Regions from separate parts of the Homo sapiens genome. Here all the other regions are linked to region 2. The links come from fine-mapping of genetic effects on gene expression. A gene starts in region 2. Each other region holds a variant in brackets. All regions are shown on one strand. Distances are between the middles of the regions.

Region 1 (2,764 bases), 39 kb before region 2:
TTTGCCAACTGTATGTTTTTTAATTAGAAATAAAATAAATCTTCTGATGGTGGGGGAAAAAGTAAGCTTAATAACAGATGTTATCCGTCTATGGGTTATTCCAGTTGCTACTATTTAAATCCTGGCAGATTAAGACATCCATATCTCAAACTAAGTCATCTCTTAGACATTGGAAGTTAAAGTAGCATATATATAATGGCTTTAGGACTATATAAAAAGCCCAAATTGTTTTTTCTGTATCACCAAGAAAGGTTAGAAGGCAATAAAGGTAGTAACAGTGATTTTATTCATAAATGTTAGAGAAAAATTCCAATCTAAAAGTATTTCATAAGGCTAAATATTTTCTAACTCCTGATAATTTAATACCATAAGATTATAAATTTTAGTATGCTTCTAATTGATACACTTGTGGGAGACTTTCTTGTGAAACTTTATGGACTAGTAAATGTTCACATTCCACAGCAACTGAATTGACCAGAAAATAGCAGCCCAGTGTGAATTGTGGAGAAACTATTTCTAACTTTTCTAAATAGTTATTTACAAGAAAAGCATTTATCGATTAAATAAATTATAAGCAATATTTCACATATACACTTTATTCCTTAACAGGAGCGATGTAATGAGGGAAAATACGAAGTCCGAAATCTCAAAAAGCTCTGTTACCTACTCTATACTTGTCTCCTTCCCGCCCCCTAATTTTGTGGCATTTTTTTTTTAGAAGGTAGGAGGAGGAGCTTTATTTTGAGCATCTGTGTACAAATGAGATTAATCAGATCATATGGCCTAATTTAACCTGTTTATCATTTCAGTGTTTTTAGATTTGATCTATAATATATATGTGTTATTAGATCTTTAGTTATTTATATTTAATCTAAATTCATATAGAAATCTTGCTGACAGTGGTATATAATTTGAAAACTGTTGGACCTGATCATTTTTGAGAGACAGTTAATGAGGAGGTGCTCTGGAATCAGATGACCTGGGTTTAAATCCCAGATTTGCCAGTTCAGCAGCATGATCTTGGACCCTAACTCTGCCGTGGATAAAATAAGGGTAAAACCTAACACACAGGGTTTAGGATTAAATGAGATAATACAGATAAAGCACTTAGGATAGTACCTGGAATACAGCAAATTTCAAATTATAGGTTCTTTATAATGATCATAAAATTATTTTTGTAATTAAAACCTCTCTTCTACAACAGAAAGAGGTCTTAACAGTTTAACCTCAGGGAAAATGATGACAACAGTGTTGTTTTCTAATCTCCCCATAAGAATACAGAGCAACTAGGATAGCCACAGACACTATTACAACGCTAGATGACAAGGTATCTCTATGAACTTCAAAATACAACTAAGTGAGGACAAACCACTGAACCACATAGTTTCAGTATCTGTGGGAGGAAGTAGAAGGAAGGCAGCTGGTTTCTGACAG[C/T]TCTGCAAATTGGAGAACTACAACACTGCCCACAGTTTCTCAACTACAAAGTGCAGCGGGCCAATCTAAGAACAGACACTGAAACTGGGAAGTGACTACAGAATCTCATTTGCAGATGAATGTTAAAGCAATATGATAAGGTCTGCTGATTGCATTAGAGCTGTCTGGGTTTTACGCTGTGTACCTCTTGAAGCTTATGAGACAAAGCCCAGCACTGAGGACAAACTTCTAGAATTAGAATCCAAATGGGCAGGATGGGTAAAATAGGACAAAGGAAAGAAGATCTAGATAAGTATTGGGAAGAAAGGCCAAGACACAGAGACATTATATATGTGTATTTTCATATATATATATATTCTTTTAAATCACTGTGAAAATGGGAGCTCTAAGGCTGTGAAGTCATCCTAGAGCCACTCCTTCCTCCTAAAAGTACAGAAAAACTCATTTCAGTTAAGGGGAAAAAAAGAGTAAGTGAGCCAGGATTACAGTCCAACTCCAGTCAAAGTTAGTATAAGAAATAAGAGAATAAATAGATCAACATCCTCACAGACAATGAAAGCACACCGGAAGGACATGACCACAAGACAGATAAAAACCTAATATTTGCCAAAAAATAAAATGCAAATATGACAGGAAATTTATATTAATTAGTACAGTTATCAATAAAAGTAGGAAAAGGGGAAAATTAACCAAGTACCAAACACTTGGAGTAAAAAGCAAAATAAAGCAGAAGGAAGGAATTAATAAAAGCAAAAAAGAATTACTAGTAGAAAACCAAAACAATAGAGGCAATAATAAATCCAAGTTGGTGATGGGTAGTGCGGGGAGTTGAGTCAGATAAACTACCAGCTAACCTATTTAAGAAAAAAAGGAGGAAGCACAAATACAAAAATTTAAATGACAAGGGGGAAATAGTAAAACAGGAAATTTGTTTAAATTGACTATTTTGAGCAATTTTACACAATAAATTCAAAAACTATTTTGAGAAAAATGCAAATTGCCAAAATTTACTCTAGGTAGATAAAGTCACAACAAACCAATTACCGTAGAAGAAACAAATAGTTAAAAGTACCCCTTACCAAAAGAAGCATCAAGCCCAGATTGTTTCAAGGGGATTTCTACCAAACCTTTTAAGATTAAATAATCCCATTCTTGCTTAAACAATTGCAGAGACTAGGAAAAGAATCTTGAACCTCAAAGTGCCAAAAAAAGAAAAAAAACAAATAAAGAAAAACTCCTGAATTCATTTTATAAAATGAATGTAATAGCATTGATTCAAAAACCTGACAAAGATGGTACCAAAAAGAAAATATAGAGCAATCTCATGAAT
Region 2 (2,764 bases):
ATATGTATATATATATAGGCACCTAATTCACGCAGGCATTTGTTAGTCTCCTCCTGATTAGCACTTTTCAGAACCTGTGGGAAGGAAGCCTTCCCAAGTCTAGCACCTGCGGCCACGCAACGGGCATTAATCCGGATCAGAACAGCCCAGGCATTATTACCTGGCAAAGCTTTCGTCCTCTGTTCACCTCATCTGTAAATGGAGGGTATTCCATTAGAGAAAATTGCTATAGTCCCTCAGTGTTTTTAATTCTACACTCCTTATTTAGATGCCGGATTGGAGACGAGGCTACCGCTGCAGACAGGGCTGTGGGAAGACGACGGAACTTGCCACAGCGACAGACTTCTCCCAAACAGGAAATAAAAGTGGGAAGCATTTTAAAACCTAAACGAGATGTCTCGCTACAGCTCTGTAGTCCCTACTTACCCAGCAATTTAGGGCATCTGTTCTTAAAGCCTAATACATAGGAATGAATTGTTTAGCTAGCCAGAAAGGCAGTGCGTGATCTAATAATCCTAAATTAATTTGTTCTCCGTGTGTCCTGAAAACAACACCAGAAACACACTTGGGCCGTGGCAGGTGAAATGTGCGCCGCCAGTCCTTGAGCTGGCGCGCGCCTTAACGTTCAGCAGCACTCCCCGCGGGGGTGCGGGGGTGCCGGAGCCGCTCAGGACCCTCTGTCCTGGCCCTCAGGAAGGAAAGCGTAGGCCCGGGTGGCGGGGGGTCTCTCCCTTGCCGCGGCCTTTTAACTTCAGTCCCTGGCCAGCATCCGGGAGAGGAATCTCCACCCTGCAGGCGGTCCCCGCGCTACTGGGCAAGAACGTGCGGTGACATCGCGACTTGGGGGTATAGAAGCAGAAAGCGGGATATGACTGCTCGGTGCCCAGTCAGGGACTATTAAGTTCACCCAGCAAGTGAAGCCAGAAGAGAACTGGGACAAGCCGGGCGGGGCCAGGGAACCCCAGGCCGCGCCTGGCTAGGGACCGCGGAGAGGGCGGGCGGGGTCTCACTCTGGTCGCCTCGCGCAGCTCTGCCGTGCTCGCCGCGGCCATTCAGGGAAGGTGGCTTAGGCTCGCCCTCGCCCGCACCGTCCTGTGCCGAGCCTGGAAGCGGGGCTTCGAACCGCGAGTGAAGAAAGCGCAGTGAGAGCAAACTGAAGGGCGGAATGGCAGCGCAGGGCCAGGGGCCAGGGGCCAGGGCTGCAGCCGGCTGCTCTGCTGCAGCGGAGCCTCCCCGCCCCGGCGCCGCCCTCGGCACCCGCCCACCGCTCCCCGCTGCCCTCACTTCCGTTCCTCAGAGCCCCCCAGCCTGGCATAGGGCGACGGGCGACTACCCGGGTGGGAGGGAGGGGCTGATGCGTAGGGGGAAGGTGGCGGCGGAGGGCGCCGAGTCCCAACCGCGTGCCACACCCACGCCCAGCCGAGTCCCGCTCAGCCTACCACTCAGACACCCGGCCTACCAGCCCCAGGCGGCCCCGCCTCTTTTGTGCGACTGGCGCTGTTGCCTGGGCAACGACCAGGCCACGCCCTGTCCACGCCCCGCGGTGCCCCGCCCAGGTCTCTGCGCGGCGCCGTTCCCAGCCGCAGTCCGCAGGAGCCGCTGCTGCAGCCGGCAGCTGGGCGGGATTCCCGGGGTAGTCGCTGGGAGCAAAGCTCGCTTCTCCCGCGCCTGTGCTTTTGCCTGCCCCGGCTTACTTCTCCCCGCGTCGGTCCGCTGGCCACGTACAGCTGACCAGCTCATCTTCCAGCTTCGGACCGAGGCTCCACGGCCGCCGCAGGGACCCGCCCACCAGACCCTGCGCTCGGTAGCCGGTGTGAGTGGAACGTGCCGCTGATGACACCTGGCAGAAGGCAGCCATGGAGGGCGATGGCTCAGATTCGCCGGTGAGTGCGGAGGGGACCGCCGCCCCCACCTCGAGGGCGGTGTGCCGACCGCGGCTCTTTCTCTTTCCTCCGCCGGGAGCCCGGAGGGAGCCTCCTCCCGGGAGAGCAAAGGCAGGCGTGTGGGGATCCCGCTTCCTCTTCGCCTTCTCCCGCCCGGGGCTAGGTTCCGCAATCCGGGGCGTCCCCTTTCTATCCCCGAGAGCCGGACGTGGGGTCCCCTGGGCCGGAGAAGAGCGCAAATCCGATGGTTGCCCACCTGAGCACCTCGGGGGAATCATGGAGGGTCTCTCTAATGGAGCTCAGGCTGTAGAATTAATTAGCGTTTGGGAGTCGGGTGCGGGCAGAAAGCTGGGGCGCGTCCCTCGCGCTTGCGGGGCCGCCCTTTGTCTAGGCGTCTTGACCCCCGCGGGCCCGGCCGGCTGCCGCCGCCTGGGCCAGAGGCTCCTCCCCGGCTTCGCCTGCCCGCGGGGGGCGGGCCGGGGCCCCGGCAGCTGTCAGCCTACAAGTGTTTTTGTTTAAAGGTGTCGAATGTGCAATTCTTCCGAAGTTTCTCGAGGAACTGCTTAATTGAGGGAGCCGCCACATCACACTTAATCAGTTTGTTTCTCCCTCAATGACAGATGAACTAAATTTTCTCTTGGGTAAGAAATACTTTATGTCCATTGTGATTAAAAAGTCAGATTCAAGACACTGCTTTATGTACAAGAAAATGGAAATGATTTTAGATCCTCCCCCAGTGACAAGTAAACCTGAACTGACCATATTTATACATAAAATGGAATGTAAGAACCTATTTTGGATATCCCGGACAAGATTTTCTTTTGAATTAGGTGCCAAACCCTTTGTGAAATGAGATAGGATGTGAATATTCTGTATTCTTT
Region 3 (2,764 bases), 73 kb before region 2:
GCATTATGTACAATTTGGAATATGGGGGGTGTGTTAGGTAGAATCCTTTTTTTTTTTTTTTTTTTTTTTTTGTGAGACAGAGTCTCGCTCTGTTGCCCAGGCTGGAGTGCAGTGGCCCGATCTTAGCTCACTGCAAGCTCCGCCTCCCGGGTTCATGCCATTTTCCTGCCTCAGCCTCCCGAGTAGCTGGGACTACAGGCGCCCGCCACCGCGCCCAGCTAATTTTTTGTATTTTTAGTAGAGACGGGGTTTCACTGTGTTAGCCAGGATGGTCTTGATCTCCTGACCTCGTGATCCGCCCGTCTCGGCCTCCCAAAGTGCTGGGATTACAGGCATGAGCCACCGCGCCCAACCTGTGTTAGGTAGAATTCTAAAGATGTTGCCCCAGGATTTCTGTTCCCTGTTAATTCAGTCAAATACTAATCTGGGTACTGCTGTGAAGGGACTGTGTAGATGGGAGTTAAAGTTATACTAATCAACTGACCTTAAAATGTGGAGCTTATCCATAGGTGACATGTGTACAGGTGGGCTCAGTATAATCACATGAACAGCAGACGAACACAGAAACGTTCGTCATGGAATTGCAGAGAAAGGGAGCAGAAGAGAGAAGAGAAGGTAGAGAGGGTCTAATGGAAAAGATTTGAGTGCCGTTGCCACTCTGAGATATGGGGCCCATATATGAGAAATGGCAAGAGAGGATCTAGGAGCAAAAAGGGATACCTACCAGCAAAGAAATGGAGAACTCAGTCACACAACTGCAAGGAAGTTGATTCTGCCAGCATCCTGAATGAGCTTGGAGGCAGATTGTTCCCCCAAAGCCTCCAAGTAAGGAAGGTAGCCCTGCCTACACCTTAACTTTAGCCTGATGATGCCTGTGTTAGACTTCTGACCTTACAAACAGTAAGGCAGTAGGTGTTTTAAGTTGCCAAGTTTGTGGTAATATGTTATGGCAACAGTGACTAATACAGAGAACAAATTTCAGCCTTATTCATATCATCTCACACCATTCATATTATTTTGTTTATTCCCTTCCAGTCTTTGTTGATATGTGCCATTTGCTTAATTATAAACATAAAAATGCACATTTATTTTTGGATCCTACTTTTTTGCTTAACTTGATCAAATACATTTCTCTGTGTTGCTACATAGTTCTACTGATTATTATTTTTAATAGGAATATAGCGTTTCTTTCAGTACATGAGGCATGATATGCTTAACCTGCTGGACTTTTATGGTGCTTCTAGATTTTCACTATTATTAAACTGCAGTGTGCATTTCTTCTCATACTTGAAATTATTGGAATTGATTCTCAGATATATCATGACTAGGTCAAAAGGTTATGAGTGTTTTTATAACTTCTGTTATATATTGGCAAGTTTTAAGTAGCTTACCAATTTAAAAGTCCTTAGGATAAGAGAACCATAATTTGACTGGGTCAAAAGGATATGAGTGTTTTTATAACTTCTGTTATATATTGGCAAGTTTTAAGTAGCTTACCAATTTAAAAGTCCTTAGGATAAGAGAACCATAATCACTGAAATCATAATCACCATTAGTATCTTTTTTTTTT[TTC/C]AAGACAGTTTGACTCTGTCGCCCAGGCTGGAGTGCAGTGGCACGATTTTGGCTCATTGCAACCTCCACCTCCCGGGTTCAAGCAATTCTCTTGCCTCAGCTTCCCCAGTAGCTGGGATTACAGGCAGGTGCCACTACACCCATCTAAGTTTTGTATTATTAGTATAGATGTGGTTTTACCATGTTGACCAGGCTGGTCTGGAACTCCTGACCTCAGGTGATCCGCCCTCCTCTGCCTCCTCCCCAAGTGCTGGGATTATAGGCGTGAGCTACCACACCTGGCTGCTAGTATCTTTTTAAAATACATTTTTCGCCAGTAGGGAGATGATAATTGGTGGAGAGTTTAAATTTAGTGGTTCCTAATTTGTTCAAAGAATTAATGTATAAGCTACTATTTTAAGTTTTTTGGGGGGATAAGAAGCTGAAAAAATATAGTACCTAATGCAGAAGTAGGAGAGTGAAAACAGTTAATAATGAAGTTAGTCATACACTAGTCATAATCTCTTATGAAGGTAGTTCTTCATATCAGAGACTATTTTTAGACCAACTCGATTTTTTTTTATCAGCGGTGCATTTACAGTCTGCTGATACTGCATTGTTATTTTCTGCATCTATCATACTGATTTTCTAATAGCTATTAAAACCATAATTGTTGTATAGTTGATTGTTCTTTCAAGTTCCCAACTTATATTCCATTGATATCTTGAGAAATGAAAATTTTTAGATAGAAAAAAAGTATGGATAAACATATTTTGATTGAGTAGAGAGAGACTAAGTGCTAACTTACAGTGTTCTACATACTTCAAAGCCAAGTGGATTACTGGACTCAGAACGAAGGTCTAGCTAATGTGGAAATACAAAGTACATATTTTCTCTTCAGCTTTAAACCTTTAGTTTGCTCCCATGTAAAGAAGCAATGAGTTAAAGTAAAAACACACTAAATGAGTTAAAGTAAAAAGACAGTAGACCCTATTGTGTTATTAACCGTTACCTTGAACAATCACTTAACCTCTGGGCTTCTGTTTTCTGTTCTGTAGAAAGGGGGATTGAACATGTTGATCACATAAAAATTGATCTGACAGGAGAAGTATGAAAGGACTGTATAGGCAGTGAGGTGGGCTATTAAAAAAAGGTACATGATAGAAATAATTATGTTTTTTGTGACTCATATGGAAATTAAATGAGGAAATTC

What was found. PIP is the estimated chance that this variant, and not a neighbour inherited with it, causes the effect.
Region 1: its variant is the best candidate, but not a certain one, in a credible set for the expression of TRIM36 in whole blood (INTERVAL, PIP 0.82).
Region 3: its variant is the best candidate, but not a certain one, in a credible set for the expression of TRIM36 in whole blood (INTERVAL, PIP 0.60).

What each region holds. Positions count from the first base shown.
Region 1 is chr5:115,208,144-115,210,907 of GRCh38, reverse strand. It overlaps PGGT1B (protein geranylgeranyltransferase type I subunit beta), which reads left to right. Exons shown (of 9, transcript NM_005023.4): 9 at 1-2,764. Among named protein-coding and RNA genes, the nearest start is that of TRIM36, 40 kb to the right of the region's middle. RefSeq lists a silencer at 1,540-1,649. The variant C/T (reference allele first, on the strand shown) is at 1,435.
Region 2 is chr5:115,168,727-115,171,490 of GRCh38, reverse strand. It overlaps TRIM36 (tripartite motif containing 36), which reads left to right and starts at 1,583. Exons shown (of 10, transcript NM_001300759.2): 1 at 1,583-1,883. The coding sequence starts at 1,857. RefSeq lists silencers at 1,168-1,587, 2,318-2,407.
Region 3 is chr5:115,241,774-115,244,537 of GRCh38, reverse strand. All of the region lies in intron 2 of PGGT1B (protein geranylgeranyltransferase type I subunit beta), which reads left to right. Among named protein-coding and RNA genes, the nearest start is that of PGGT1B, 20 kb to the left of the region's middle. The variant TTC/C (reference allele first, on the strand shown) is at 1,571.